Homo sapiens: one gene and its partners. The protein of the gene in region 4 interacts with the protein of the main gene of each other region in a pairwise test. Each region holds a gene or a part of one and is shown on either strand. Other genes may lie near its edges.

Evidence for each region. Proteins that work in one complex are often made in the same cells at the same time.
Region 1: the proteins of KAT7 (region 4) and PPID interact in a two-hybrid assay, tested with the Homo sapiens proteins (one large-scale study listed by BioGRID and IntAct).
Region 2: the proteins of KAT7 (region 4) and CEP126 interact in a two-hybrid assay, tested with the Homo sapiens proteins (one large-scale study listed by IntAct).
Region 3: the proteins of KAT7 (region 4) and WDR33 interact in a two-hybrid assay, tested with the Homo sapiens proteins (one large-scale study listed by BioGRID and IntAct).

The regions. Positions count from the first base shown.
Region 1 is NC_000004.12:158,716,897-158,720,396, forward strand, and holds part of PPID (peptidyl-prolyl cis-trans isomerase D), read right to left. Parts: intron 2,391-3,500; coding exon 2,284-2,390; intron 305-2,283; coding exon 116-304; intron 1-115. UniProt on the Homo sapiens protein: PPIase that catalyzes the cis-trans isomerization of proline imidic peptide bonds in oligopeptides and may therefore assist protein folding. Proposed to act as a co-chaperone in HSP90 complexes such as in unligated steroid receptors heterocomplexes.
Region 2 is NC_000011.10:101,981,010-101,984,509, forward strand, and holds part of CEP126 (centrosomal protein of 126 kDa), read left to right. Parts: intron 1-879; coding exon 880-955; intron 956-3,500. UniProt on the Homo sapiens protein: Participates in cytokinesis. Necessary for microtubules and mitotic spindle organization. Involved in primary cilium formation.
Region 3 is NC_000002.12:127,804,672-127,808,171, reverse strand, and holds part of WDR33 (pre-mRNA 3' end processing protein WDR33), read left to right. Parts: intron 1-3,500. UniProt on the Homo sapiens protein: Essential for both cleavage and polyadenylation of pre-mRNA 3' ends.
Region 4 is NC_000017.11:49,795,181-49,798,680, reverse strand, and holds part of KAT7 (histone acetyltransferase KAT7), read right to left. Parts: intron 1,932-3,500; coding exon 1,755-1,931; intron 363-1,754; coding exon 123-362; intron 1-122. UniProt on the Homo sapiens protein: Catalytic subunit of histone acetyltransferase HBO1 complexes, which specifically mediate acetylation of histone H3 at 'Lys-14' (H3K14ac), thereby regulating various processes, such as gene transcription, protein ubiquitination, immune regulation, stem cell pluripotent and self-renewal maintenance and embryonic development.

The sequences.
Region 1 (3,500 bases), on a different chromosome or scaffold from region 4:
GCTGCAGTGAGCCGAGACCGCACCACTGCACTCCAGCCTGGAACAGATCGAGACTCCGTCTCAAAAAGATAGCAACTAAGATAATAAGTGTATTTCACTGTAACTTTTTACTTACTTTAGCAGGTTTTTCACCTTTCACTTCCACATTTTCCAATATCCTTGCCACTCCTATTCCTTTAATTACTTGGCCAAACACCACATGTTTCCCATCCAAATGAGGAGTTGGAACTGTTGTGATAAAAAACTGAGAACCGTTTGTGTTGCGGCCTGCATTTGCCATGCTCAGTAAACCCTCCCGATCATGCTGTAGAAATAAAAATTAAAAGAAAACCAAGGTTAGATGTGTTCTTTTCTGAATTGTGTGTTAGTCTGAACTGTTCTTTTACTGAACATAAAACTGGGGTGCACTATACTACCATTTAGATCAAACTACTTTTTTTTACTTTTCACTTATAAAATTTTTTAATTACTTTTTATTTTTTTATAAACTGCAACCTTTAATTCACAAAACATGGGGCACTTAATCACTTTAAACTTTAAAAAACCTTATCAAAGTAAATAGGTAACAGAAACAATAGTCGGGGGGAGGGTTATTTCTAAATTGGCCATGAGAAAATACTTACACTTCACCTTTAAAATGAAGATGCAGCATTATGAAACTCTTGTAATATATTTTGCCCTCTTTATGATGAATGCTCTTTTTTTCTGGGAAGACCTGAACGGTCTTCCAAATTCATAAATATGCCTACAGTATAAGTCTTCCTTTACAAAACATCAATAAACTGGAACAATAATGGGATACTGAATTTACCCAAGACATTCAGTTTGGTACTTTCCTAATCTCAAAAGAATCCAAATCATACAGGATTTGGATTAGGTTTTCATCCCAGATGAATCACCTCTTCGGAGAGTGCTCAAAAGAAACTGCTGCATACATCTTGAAATCAAAATTCTACCTTGGCATAATCCTGTCAAAGGATCTATGAAACCCAATTTCTTAACCTTTTCACTTTATCTCCTAGGCTTTCTAAATGTATTCCTTGTTGGTGCATGCACCGTAACTCTCATGTTATATAATGTTTCATGACACCCCCCACCCCACCAAAATGCCTTTTACTCCCCTCAGTCTAAATCAAATTCAGATTTTAAGGCCACCACGTTTATAGAAAGCAAGAATCATGTGTCTTGTCTATAGGCCCCTTTTCTCTATGTCAATGTGATCATCACATCACCTTTAGTTTTCATCCTTCTGGTAGCTTCCTTTGGTACAACAGTAACTAGAACTTTATTTCCTCAACGTCTCTTGCCTTTGTCTTTCCTCACCGACGTCCCTTTTTAAATTCTGCATCAATACTACAGTTCCTGCCTAACCAAATCTCAGACATGTTGCCGCCTTGCAAGACCCAGTCTGCACAGCCCAAGTAGCCATTCCTCCTCAATGACTTCCATAATAATTCAGACTGCATAAATCACATCTTTCTCCTGCAGTATATAGACAGTATTAGCAATGTTATACAAGCAAGGATATTCAATCAATTTAGCATTTATTTATATACTATTATTCTCCAGTAGTCCCATGTATCTTAATCTTGTCTCTGAGGTAGGATTATAAATTCCTTGTCATCAAGGCCTTTCATTTTTATAAACCCTTTGGTGCCAGTGATAGTGGCTCAATAAACACTGACTGGAAGACTGACGACATTTTTTCAAATTATCCTAATACCCTTGCTCATATTCCTTATTTCCAAAAATATCACTTTACTTTTGTACTTACATGTCCATTCTTATAACTTGAATGATGCAATATACCCCAATTACATCTTGGGACAACGAAGACAAGAAGGCACAGGCACCACTGAAGTCCTTTAGGAGCTTGGACATTTAACTATATCTGCTAGTGTGCAAATCCCCTGACATCCTGGATATTAGTGATGGTTTTGTTGCTCTTCAAATTCAAGGATAAGGATGCACAAGTTACCATCCTTCCAACAATGGAAACATTTTTCCTGGAAACAATTTTGCCAGATGCTGGTCGCATTTAAAAACTCACTGGCTTAACTGAAGCATATAAAAACTGGATCACAATGAAATAATGCTGAATTAATCATTACTGAATGAAAACTTTTCCATATTAAAGAACCATTATTTACAAAAGTGATTCCTATTACAAGAAATGGAGAATCTAAGCACACTTGAAACATTTTTTGGTGTCTTAATCCAACAAGTATTCCAGATATATAACAATCTTTTTATCAGCAATAACATGCATTTTCTCTACTTTACCTTGTAATGGAAATTTTCATCTTCAAATTTTTCACCATAAATACTTTCTCCACCTGTCCCATTCTGATTTGAGAAGTCTCCACCCTGAATCATAAATTTCTTAATAACTACAAAAAAGGAAAATGGCTATTAGTGACTGAGACATGGATGCCTTTAGCAATGCTTACTAATGGATACGTACGTAAGACAACTTTGTAGTGCATGACTCTAGTCATGTCTCTCTCCTGTTTGTCGCTCCCCACCCGTCTCCGCAACTCCAAACGCTTCAGGCTTTTCACCATCTGAATCCAACCTATTTTCACTGCCTGATCCCTGCTAACATTCAGAAAATCGGTTCAAATGATACCTCCCCTATAAAACTGTCACTGAAATCCCTAAGCTGTATGTCCTAATTTTTCTCCCATAGTATCTTGACTCTGCCTACATAACATATGGCATTATGATCTGCCCCTTCCAGCAATGATCTCCTTAAGTACACCAACTGTATTGTTTTACATCCTTATAACTATGTGCATGTACACATAGTACATATTAGTTACTCAATAATGTCTGCTGAATACAGACCAATGATTCCCAGTAGATTTGTTCTACCCTAATGGAAAATTTTCAGCAAATATATCACTTTGTGTCAAAGGTTACCAAGATTGCTTTCATGTTCAGAGAACCCTAGAGCTCACACAAATCAGTATGTGGTTGGATCACAGTGGTAAGGATACACAGCGAGATGACGGGAAAGACACAGGCAGAGTCTGGAAAAATCCATGTGCAGGCTTCCTTATGCTTTCTCCGTCCCATGAAGTGCTACAGAACACACACTTCCCCCAGCAACAAAAATGCAGCAACATGTACACAGTATTTCTGCCCAGGAGAGCCAATTAGAGACTCAGCACCCAAGGTATTTATTGGGCACACTCTACCTAGCATGTACCAAAATTCCAGACTCCCCAAAAGAGAGCACACATTCATGTTTGTACAAATAGGCTAGGCATAGTAAATCACCATTACTATTTAGGAAATGGTACAAGTGTCAAGTTCCCAGACTCCAAACAAGTGCTACTCTTGCAGGCAGACCTTTCTAAAGATAGCAGTCTCACACTTGCTATGTTAAATATTTTCTGCATATAGTTTATTAGCATATTTCAAGTTTTTATTAAACATGAAAGTAAACATTTTAAATATTTTTTAAAAAGTTAATTTTTTCTTAATAAATCGTTTAA
Region 2 (3,500 bases), on a different chromosome or scaffold from region 4:
AATAAAGAAGGAGGTAGACCATATTCAGGGAAGGGAAGTTGGTATCTCTCAGAAAGTGTTAGATGTGTACACTTTTTGCCAGTGTTCTGAGACTTCCGTTTTCAAGGTTCTGTGCAGCATTGGGGCAGCTATTTGTGTTTTAAGTTTTGTCACGTAAGATAATTACCTATCCTTGGCATTAGCTGTAGTCAGATGCTTTTAGCTAATAGTTATGATTCACCCTTACAATGACAAACCAACTAGGTTAGAAACTTTAAGGTAATTTTTTACCTTTTCTTTAATTAGCACTTTTTTTTATTTTTGAGACAGAGTCTCGCTCTGTCACCCAGGCTGGAGTGCAGTGGCACAGTCTCAGCTCACTGCAACCTCCATCTCCTGGGTTCAAGTGATTCTTCTGCCTCAGTCTCCCAAGTAGCTGGAACCACAGGCACGTGCCACAACTCCTGGCTAATTTTTTATATTTTTAGTAGAGACAGGGCTTCACCGTGTTAGCCAGGATGGTCTCGATCTCCTGACCTTGTCATCTGCCCACCTCGGCCTCCCAAAGTGTTGGGATTACAAGCATGAGCCACCGTGTCAGCCTAATTAGCACTTTTGATTACCATCCAACTCACTTTACCTCTTCCAAATATCCAGGACAATATCATAATCTGAAAATTTTTTTGTGGACATAAAACATTTTTCATAATATTCCATTACCATAGAAATTCTTTATTATAATAATTCTTGTATTCAGCTCTAAAAAATGTAATATACAAGTTACATGAACAATTGTAGCTAAAAATATATACAGCAATTAAAAGTTTTTTAAAAGTTCATGTACATATTATGAATTTTAAATATGGAAATATGTTTTAATTCAATATTCTATTTTTGTAGAATTTTGGACAAAGTGTCCTGCTAAGTTCAAGTGAGCCAAAACAAACTACAAGGGGTACTTCTTATATTGAAGAAGGTATGTTTTAGTTTAAACATTTTTCTCTGATCTTTGTTCCCAGTGATTTTTTTTCTTGTATGCCTATTCTCAGATGCTAACGTATTATGTAATTGTTAAAGCACCATTTAAAACCTGAACTCTCCTCACCCCTGCACATCCAGGTCATTGTCAGTGTTCCTTTATTCTAAATAATAATGTATTGAACATCTTTCTACATCAAGTTATTTTCTGATTTTTACTTATTTCTGTAGGTTAGATTTCCAGAATTAAAATTACAGTAACTGACATGTAAATGCCACCCAGTAAATATTTATTGAATTAAACTCCATGTATTAAATGAATACTGGATCAAAAGAAATAAGCATTGATATGGCTGTTCATATATATTGCTAAAGTATTTTCCGGAAAAGTATTATTCAAAATTGTTCTAGTAGTGTGTGTCCAGTGGTGTATGTCAACTTGAGGTAGAATCTTTTCATATTTGCTATAGACAGAAAAATAGTATTATATTAGTTTTGATTTCTATACCTTTCATTAATATTATGCTTAATTGCTTTTCTGTGTATTTTTTGGTGAACTGTCTCTTTGTACTCTTTTTTCTTAGATATTAGAGTTCGAAATTTTCTTACTGATGTCTGCAAATTATTTAGCTATGAAGGATTCTAATTCTTATATTAGTTGAAGATGTTTCATTACTACTTGCATGTTATTCTACTTATATTGTATTTTCACATATATTTTAATTTGTATCTGTTCATTCAGTAAATGATTATTGAGAGCTAATCTTCTGCTTACAAGTAGGTATTGGATATACATGTAGAATATCCCTAATCCAAATATTTCAAAATCAAAAATGCTCCAAAATCCAAAATTTTTTGACCCCTGACATGATACCACAAATGGAAAATTTTACACCTGACTTCATATGATGGGTCACAGCTAAAACACAAGCTCATACCATACAGTTTATTTAGCATCCCCAAGGGGAAAAAAGATCCTCTCAGCCCTCTTCAGCTGCACTATATCTTTCCCATGCACACCCAGATTCCCCCATGTAAGCATGCTCACAAGGAGTAATAAAATGATACATGTACCAATGGCAGATTCCCCACGAGACCCCACATGGGGCCAAGACCTACATGCATTACTCACTGTATTTTTTTGCTTTTTCTCTGCTTTGTGATGTAAAGATATTGTTGAAAATATCAAAAAGACCTGAAGATACCCCTGTGGGTAGCAGTGATAAGAAAAAGAGGAAACATTTCTGTTTATCAATAGCCCAGAAAGTCAAACTTGGAGAAACTACACCAGCAACCTAAGTGTAAAATGTCTTATAGAAAAGGATGGTGTTGGAATGACCACAATATATGACCTGAAGAAACAGAAGGATAAACTGTTGAAGTTCTGCTTTGGAAGAGATGAACAGAAGTTAATGCAAAACATTAAACACTGCATAGGATTTCAACCATGAAGTCAAAGAGTGGATCCATCAGCGTCGCATGAGCACATGCCACTTAATGGTATGCTGATCATGAAACAAGCAAAGATCTATCATGATGAACTGAAAATTGAAGAGAACCATGAATATTCAACAGGCTGGTTATAGAAATTTAAGACACAGCATTATTTTTAAAGATTTGTGGTGATCAAGCGTCTGCTGATTACAAAGCAGCAGAGAAATTCATTGAAGAGTTTGCCAAGGTCATCGCTGATGAATATCTGACACCAGAAGAAGTATATGTTACTGATGAACATCACTGGTTTGGTGTTGTTACTCAAAAAAACATTGACTATAGCTGATGAGACAGCCCCTACAAGAATTAAGAATAACAGAATAACTGCTAGGATGTGCTAATGACTCAGTCACGCCCAAGTGTAAATTTGCTATGATAGGCAAAAGCTTGTGTCCTCACTGATTTCAAGGAGTGAATTTCTTACCAGTCCATTAATGTGCTAACAAAAGGACATGGATCACCAGGGACATCTTTTCTGATTGGTTTCACAAACACTTTATATCAGGGAAGCTGGATTGAATGATGACTGCAAGATTTTGTTATTCTTTGACAACTGTTCTTTTCATCCTCCAGCTGAAATTCTCATCAAAAATAATCTTTATGCCACGTGCTTTCCCCCAAATATTACTTCATTAATTCAGCTGTGTGACCAGACTATCGTTAGGTAGATGAAGAGTAAATACATATAAACACTTTCTTGAACAGCATGCCAGCAACAGTGAACAGAGATGTGGATGTAGAAGGTTTTCAAAACGAGTTTAGCATGAAAGATGCCATACATGCTGTTGCAAACACTTGGAACACAGGGACTAAAGACACAATTGTGCATTCCTGGCACAACCTCTGGCCTGCAACTATGTTCAGTGATGATGAACAAGGTAGTGACTGAAGGATTCTGTATGTCAAGTGAGAAAAAATTATGTCTGACCTCATTACGTAAGCAAAAAAATATACCTTCAGAGTCTATCAGTAAGCTGGAAGAAGTGGATATCAAAGAGGTTATTAACATCGATAATAAGACTCCAGGTGTTTTCATTGACCAATGATGA
Region 3 (3,500 bases), on a different chromosome or scaffold from region 4:
ATGAATTTAATTGGTGACATCATTTTCAGTTTTAAACATTAACTCAAATATCTTTGTTGAAATTTACTGACAATCTCATTCCTCTGATAAGTTAATCACTCCTTTCTCTGCTATTAAAGCATTTTGTATATATCTTTAATGTATTTTGACTATACCTTCTCCACTACTTGTGAATACTTTGGTTTTTAGTTTGTTTGTTTGTTTTCTGAGACAGGGTCTCACTTTGTCACCCAGGCTGGAATACAGTGGCATGATCATGGCTCACTGTAGCCTCTAATTCCTAGGCTCAAGCGATCCTCCCACTTCAGCCTTTCAAAGTCTTGGGAGTCATGAGTCCCTGCTGCCAGCTCTTTGTGAGCACGTTGAAGACGTGCTATAGTACCTTATATTTTTGTATTCCTAAAACCTAGGCATTATACAAATTGAAGAATGAATTTTCTACAAAAATTCCCCTCATGACTTGGTTTATTTCTGATCTTTGGCTGTTGCTTATTAACTCTTTGCCTAGATTGTATTCTCCTTCCTTTCACACTATTCCTATTCTGTTCAGTCCTTAAAATCCAGCTAAATCCAATTAATGAGGTCTTCAGTGACTCTCATTTATTCATAACTTGTTTAGTTAGTCTAGTGTCTGTGTGACTGCCTTCTGTTACTTTGTGTCCCATTAGTACCTGCCTCTATGCCTTACCATTTTGAGCAGATCCTTGAGTGGGATGATACGTGCAAAACTGTGCTTTAGGCAGTTTGTTGTTATAGGCACCTGCTCTCTACTCTGTTTGCTCTCAACTTAGTAGGTGGAGCAGCAATTTTCCTTTTTTGGTATATGGAATATTCTGGTAACTTTTTTGCAACTTTAAGAAATTTCAAGCCAGGTGCAGTGGCTCACATCTGTAATCCCAGCACTTTGGGAGGCCGAGGCAGGTGGATCACCTGAGGTCAGGAGTTCAAGACCAGCCTGGCCAACATGGTGAAACCCCATCCCTACTAAATACAAAAAAAATTAGCTGGGCGTGGTGGCACATTCCTGTAATCCCAGCTACTTGGGAAGCTGAGGCAAGAGAATTGCTTCAACCTTGGAGGCGGAGGTTGCAGTGAGCTGAGATTGCGCATTGTACTTCAGCCTGGGCAACAAGAGTGAAATGCCGTCTTAAAAAAAAAAATTTCAAACATGCAGCAAAGGTGAAAGAATACTACAGTGAACACCCATATGCCTTCTGTTTGGATTCGACTGTTAACCAACATTTAACCATTTTGCTTTAACTCTATATCCTCCCTTTCTTGAATGATTTGAAATTAAATTGCAGATATACTGCTTTTCCCTGTAATACCTCAGGATGCATGTCTTTGAAATAATGCTTTTTCCTACGCTTTTCTACATTTTTATTTCAAGCCAGTCTCCAGCTGAAAACATATAAAATCATTATCATACCTAAGGCAATTAGCATGAAATCTTTAGCATCATCTTTTTTTTTTTTTCGAATGAGTTGGTGTAGTTCTATTTTTTTTTGGCTTTGTTCCACAGTTGTTGAAGAGTTGGTTTAATTCTAGGTTACACAGAGTTTAGGGTAGAACAAAGACCAAAGAGCAGTCTCTGGCAAGATTCTGGGCTGGTTTTACTTTAAATTCATAGCTAAGGCAGGAATGGAGTGAAAACAACTAAAGAGAGGCCGGGCGCAGTGGCTCACGCCTGTAATCCCAGCACTTGGGAGGCTGAGGTGAGCAGATCACCTGAGGTCAGGAGTTTGAGACCAGCCTGGCCAACATTGTGTAACCTCGTCTCTACTAAAAATACAAAAATTAGCCGGGTGTGGTTGCGCATGCCTGTAGTCCCAGCTACTCGGGAGACTGAGGCATGAGAATCGCTTGAACCCAGGAGGTGGAGGTTGTAGTGAGCTGAAATTGTGCCACTGCACTGCAGCCAGGGCAACAGAGCGAGACTGTCTCAAAAAAAAAAAAAAAAAGAAAAAGAAAAACAACTAAAGAGATGATGAGCCACTGTAAGCATTTTAATTTATTTTATTAATATTTTTTATTTAAAATTTTAAAATTTTGTTTATTTTGAGACAGGGTCTTACTTTGTCATCCAGGTTGGAGTGCAGTGGCACAATCACAGCTCACTGCAGCCTCAACCTCCCAGCTCAAGCAATCTGCCCACCTTGGCCTCACAAAGTGCTAGGATTACAGGTGTGAGCCACCACACCTGCGGTTTTTTTTTTTTTTTTAAACAAAAGTTTATTCTTTAATGTGCAGTAGACTCCAGCTTCAAGACGACACTTCATTCCAGCTATAGGTGGCAACAGATATTATGGCAGGGAATACAGATGTTTAAATACGAATGAAATCAAGGGTCACCATTGCTTCAGGCACAGGGCACAGCTTACTTTCTGCCAGATTTTTAAATTCCACCTGTGGCCGGAGCCCCTTCCAGGAGGCTTTCGCTTTTAGCTCCTTGTGTTTCTTTCGTTCCTTTTCTTGTTTCTGCTTGAAAGCCTTATTCATCTTCTTGGCCTGCTTTTTGGGCAGTTTCAAAGGGTTCTTCTTGCCACCTTTGAGGCCGGACCTGGCACCTGCTGCCCCTTCCTGACTCTGTCACCACAAACAGCTAGCCTCATCTTTTTAAAGAACGTTCCATATTTTGGAATTTCTTATTGTATGCTTAAAATGTCATGTATTTTGTTTCTCAATTCCTGTTGTTTCTCTATTCCTTTTATTTCCTGTAAACTAGAAGTTAGATCTAGAGAGGTTTGACTAAATTTGGGTCAAATATTTTTGGCAAAAATACTTCATAGAGGCCAGGTGCGCTGGCTCATGTCTGTAATCCCAGCACTTTGAGAGGCTGAGGCAGATGGATTGCTAGAGCCCAGGAGTTCAAGACCAGCCTGGACAATTTGGCAAAACCCTGTCTCTATTTTAAAAAAAGAAAAAAAAATGCTGGGTTTGGTGGCCTGCGCCTGTAGTCCCAGCTACTTGGGAGGTTGAGACAGGAGGATGGCTTGAGCCAGAGAGGTGGAGGCTGCAGTGAGCCGACATCCTGCTGCTGTACTCCAGCCTAGGCGACAAGAGAACCCTGTCTCAAAAAAAAAAAAAAAAAAAAAAAAAAAAAGAAAAAACTTCACAGGTGATGATACGTGATTTATGTTGTGAGGATATACTTCTAGCTATGAGCCTTCAATAAGGTGGTAGGGACTGCCAGATGTTAGCTTGCGTTATTTACAATGCCAAATTTACCTGGTTAATGTGTCCATTGGATTTCTTCATCAAAGAGGTATATTTTTCCCTTTGCAGTTATACTTGATCTGTGGGGTGATAACTTTAGCATCATGTGAGTACCTCACTTCTCAAAATATTTTTCACTTAATGATTGATGATTATTAGCTGAGTCATTTATTGGGGGTTTTCTAATTTTGTTATTTGTTTATATTCATTAACTGTTTTCTGTAATAAAGAGCTTTTGCTTTCCCCCTTTCGTGTTTAAATGTTTAAATTTTGAAATAAATATG
Region 4 (3,500 bases):
TCAGCACATGACCACTGAAGAGCCTAAGAAGCTAAATCCCAACAGAACACAAAACATTTCTGGATGATCCTGGGAGAGAGAACCACAGAACAAAGGATGTCATGAAGCTAGGGCACACTGACCTAGAGAGTTACAGCCTGGTGTAGGACACTTCATATTGAAGTTGTAGCTTTCATGGAAGCGACGGCGCTTGGGGCGATGAGAGAGATCACTGCCTGAGTCCTTCAGGGACATGTCCTTGGCAATGCTCTCATCGTGAGATACATTGGGGCTGGAGATGTCTATGTCAGACTCAGAAGAAGGCGCATTTCCAGTTGGAGTTCGAGGCGGTGACTCATCATGATCAGCTGTATTTTTAGTTTCTAAAGCAAAAGCAATTGGTAGAAGTTATGAGTGGAGTTCATTTATTTAGAAGTTTACTATTCAGAGTTTATGGGCTTCCCAGGTTCTTTTTCTATGATTTAACCAGTAACTTTCAGCTATTCATCTGCTAGATGGCTAAATGGAAAATGAAGAGGCACTTCTACACCATCCATTTTGTGCAACTTTAAATTCTGATTAAAATTAAATTTGTACTTCATCTATTACACCTATCTGTATTTCTCCTGAGTTGCTAATCATGGATAATCAAAACTAGATGGAAATACGTTTTTAAAACATTACTATCCCACTTCCCTTCCAGGAGATACACAGGACAGAAGATAAGTGACAGTGATTATCTTTCTGGATGACACTGAACAGGCTTGGTGTAAGATGTGAATGGACTTAGAGTCTTGAGTGAGCCTGTTTGTAGTCTAACAATTCAATCTTGAAATTCCAGACTCTAAATCAGGAATTGCAAACCAAATGCCTACAGGGGCTCAGCAAGGCCAAAGAGACAGCTCATTGTCCATCTAAAGGGGACAACTACTATTCAACTCCAGCCAATTATTACTATGGGTGATTGGCCGCCCAGTGTTCCCAGATCTTTTCATTGTTTAAAATAAACTATTAATCCAGGTTTTTATATGAAATCATTGTGTTTTCAAATACTAGCAACAAATTTAAAAAATTTTAAACACTGTGCAAGCAAACCAACCAACCATGCGGACAGCTAGAAGTAGTTCACCAGTCTGTGACCTCTGCATTAAGAAATTTGGAGATAAATGGACTGAGAAGTATGGCTATAAGAAAAGTCTGCTTCAAGCCCTTTTCAAATGTGGTTAAGAAGGGCCCAGTCTCTTTTTCCTATTACAGGTACGATTTAATATACTCCAGCTACTCTGGACCTTGAGAATATTCTGATATCAAACTGTCCTCAGCAATGTATAAGAAAGGAGGCTGGGCATGGTGGCTTATACCTGTAATCCCAGCACTTTGGGAGGCTGAGGCGGGTGGATCACGAGGTCAGGAGATCGAGACCATCCTGACTAACACAGTGAAACCCCGTCTCTACTAAAAATACAAAAAATTAGCCTGGCGTGGTGGCAGGCGCCTGTAGTCCCAGCTACTCAGGAGGCTGAGGCAGGAGAATGGCGTGAACCCGGGAGGCAGAGCTTGCAGTGAGCCAAGATTGCACCACTGCACTCCAGCCTGGGCAATAGAGCGAGACTCCGTCTCAAAAAAAAAAAAAAAGACATAAGAAAGGAAGCAAGCAAACAGCATTCATCTAGCTGAAGTATTAGGCATCTACCTGCAGTGGCCCCAAGCCCTCCTTAAAAAGAATTTCACCCAGATGCTCTGTAATAGGTCTAAGTCATACCATACCCACTCACCTCTATCTGAAAAATCAACCACTTGCTCAGTTTCTGAACCAGATGAACGAGTCTGCCGAAGAGGGTATTTTTTCGGTGTCACTGGGGTAGGCTGCTGCTGACTACGGGTCACTCTTCTGGTAGAGTAAGCAGGCTCCTCAGTGCCAAAAGACTGCAGATTTCGAACAGGACTGGAATCTGATCCCAATTTTAAAAGAAAATAAAGAAAAAAGATGGAAATCTGTTTTACTTCCTATCCATATAATTTATCAGAATATCGCTCCTCCTCCTCTTCATATTTCACAAAATCCAACAAATCCTTAAAATATCTATTTAATTAAATAAAATATAAGCAAAAGAGCCTAGCTCAGGTATACAGATGTAATGTAGTACAGCATTAATAAGTTTAGGTTCTGGAATTAGGACTGAACTTGATTCAACTCCACTCCACCATACCAACTAGCTGTGGCATCTTGGGCAAGTTATTTTCTCCAAGCCTGTTTCCTGACCTATTGAAAAGGAAAATACTAGTAGCACATTCCTCATAACACTGTGGTGAGGAATAGGTGAGATAATGCATGTGAAGCACTTAACATGATCCGTGGTACAGAGTGCTTTATAAATATTAACTGCATCCTCTCATTCTTCCCTTTTTCTAACCCACCATAAAACAGATATTCTATTACCAAAGATATAACAACAAACAAAACGATTTCCTTTCTTAAGGGGCCGATTTTTTTTTCTTTCTTATTACCCTCTCTGGCACTGTCATAATAGATTCATAAAGGTAAAGCAGGAATGCAGCATTTTAAGTTTTTTGGATAGAAAAACCTATTCTGAGGCACTCAGCAGCCCTTTTATATCTCCAACCTGAGGACAAAGGAAATGAAGGAAAATTCAAAGCTGAAATTAAAGCATTTTTAAAAAATATATGTAGATATGTTTTAGTTTTTTTGTGCTTTTTTTTTTATAAAGAGACATGTTTAATCATAGCTTGCTCTTCACAGAGATGACTACAGAGACTTTTAATCTATAATCCAGGAGTATATAACCATGCAGTACAGACCAATTAGCCAAATGTAAAATAAACTAGATTCTTACCACAACTGCCCTATAAACATTGCAACTATTCTTTGCAAAAGGACCCTACATCTTATGTGAAAACACCTAGTGTAGGGGAACCAGAAACCTAGCTATGTGGCCAAAAGTAAAAACCAAAGGAAAAAATAACAATTCAGTGGTTAATTGGTGAAAGCAGGAAATTTGTGCCCTTTACTGTGCTGCTGCTTTGGTCTTCTTACTTTTGTTCTTTTTGTCCCTTTTCTTCAGCCCATCCATGTTAGCACTCGGTAGGTTTGAATAAGCCATCTGAAACTTATTCACTTGGTTGGAGCTCACCACAGTGCTGACCTTCTTTTTCCCATCGATAGCTCTTAACAGACACTTGTCTGAGGGCTCAAAGCCCTCCACAGAACCTTTCTTTGGAACGGGTTTGGTTCCACCACCATACTTCTTCAAGGTGATATAGATGCTGCCCGATGTCCAGCACTTCTGGAAAAGTCTGGTCAGCTCCGTCAGGAACTGCTCACTCTCCAACAACACCATCGTGGTGATGCTGGCTCAATTCCCTCCGTGTAAGCCCCTAGCAGTCTTAGTTTTGTTTTAATTGACATGTAAGTGTACATATTTATAGAGTATACTGTGATGTTCTGATAGACGTATACATTGTGTAATGATGAAATCAAAATAATTAGCATATCCATATCT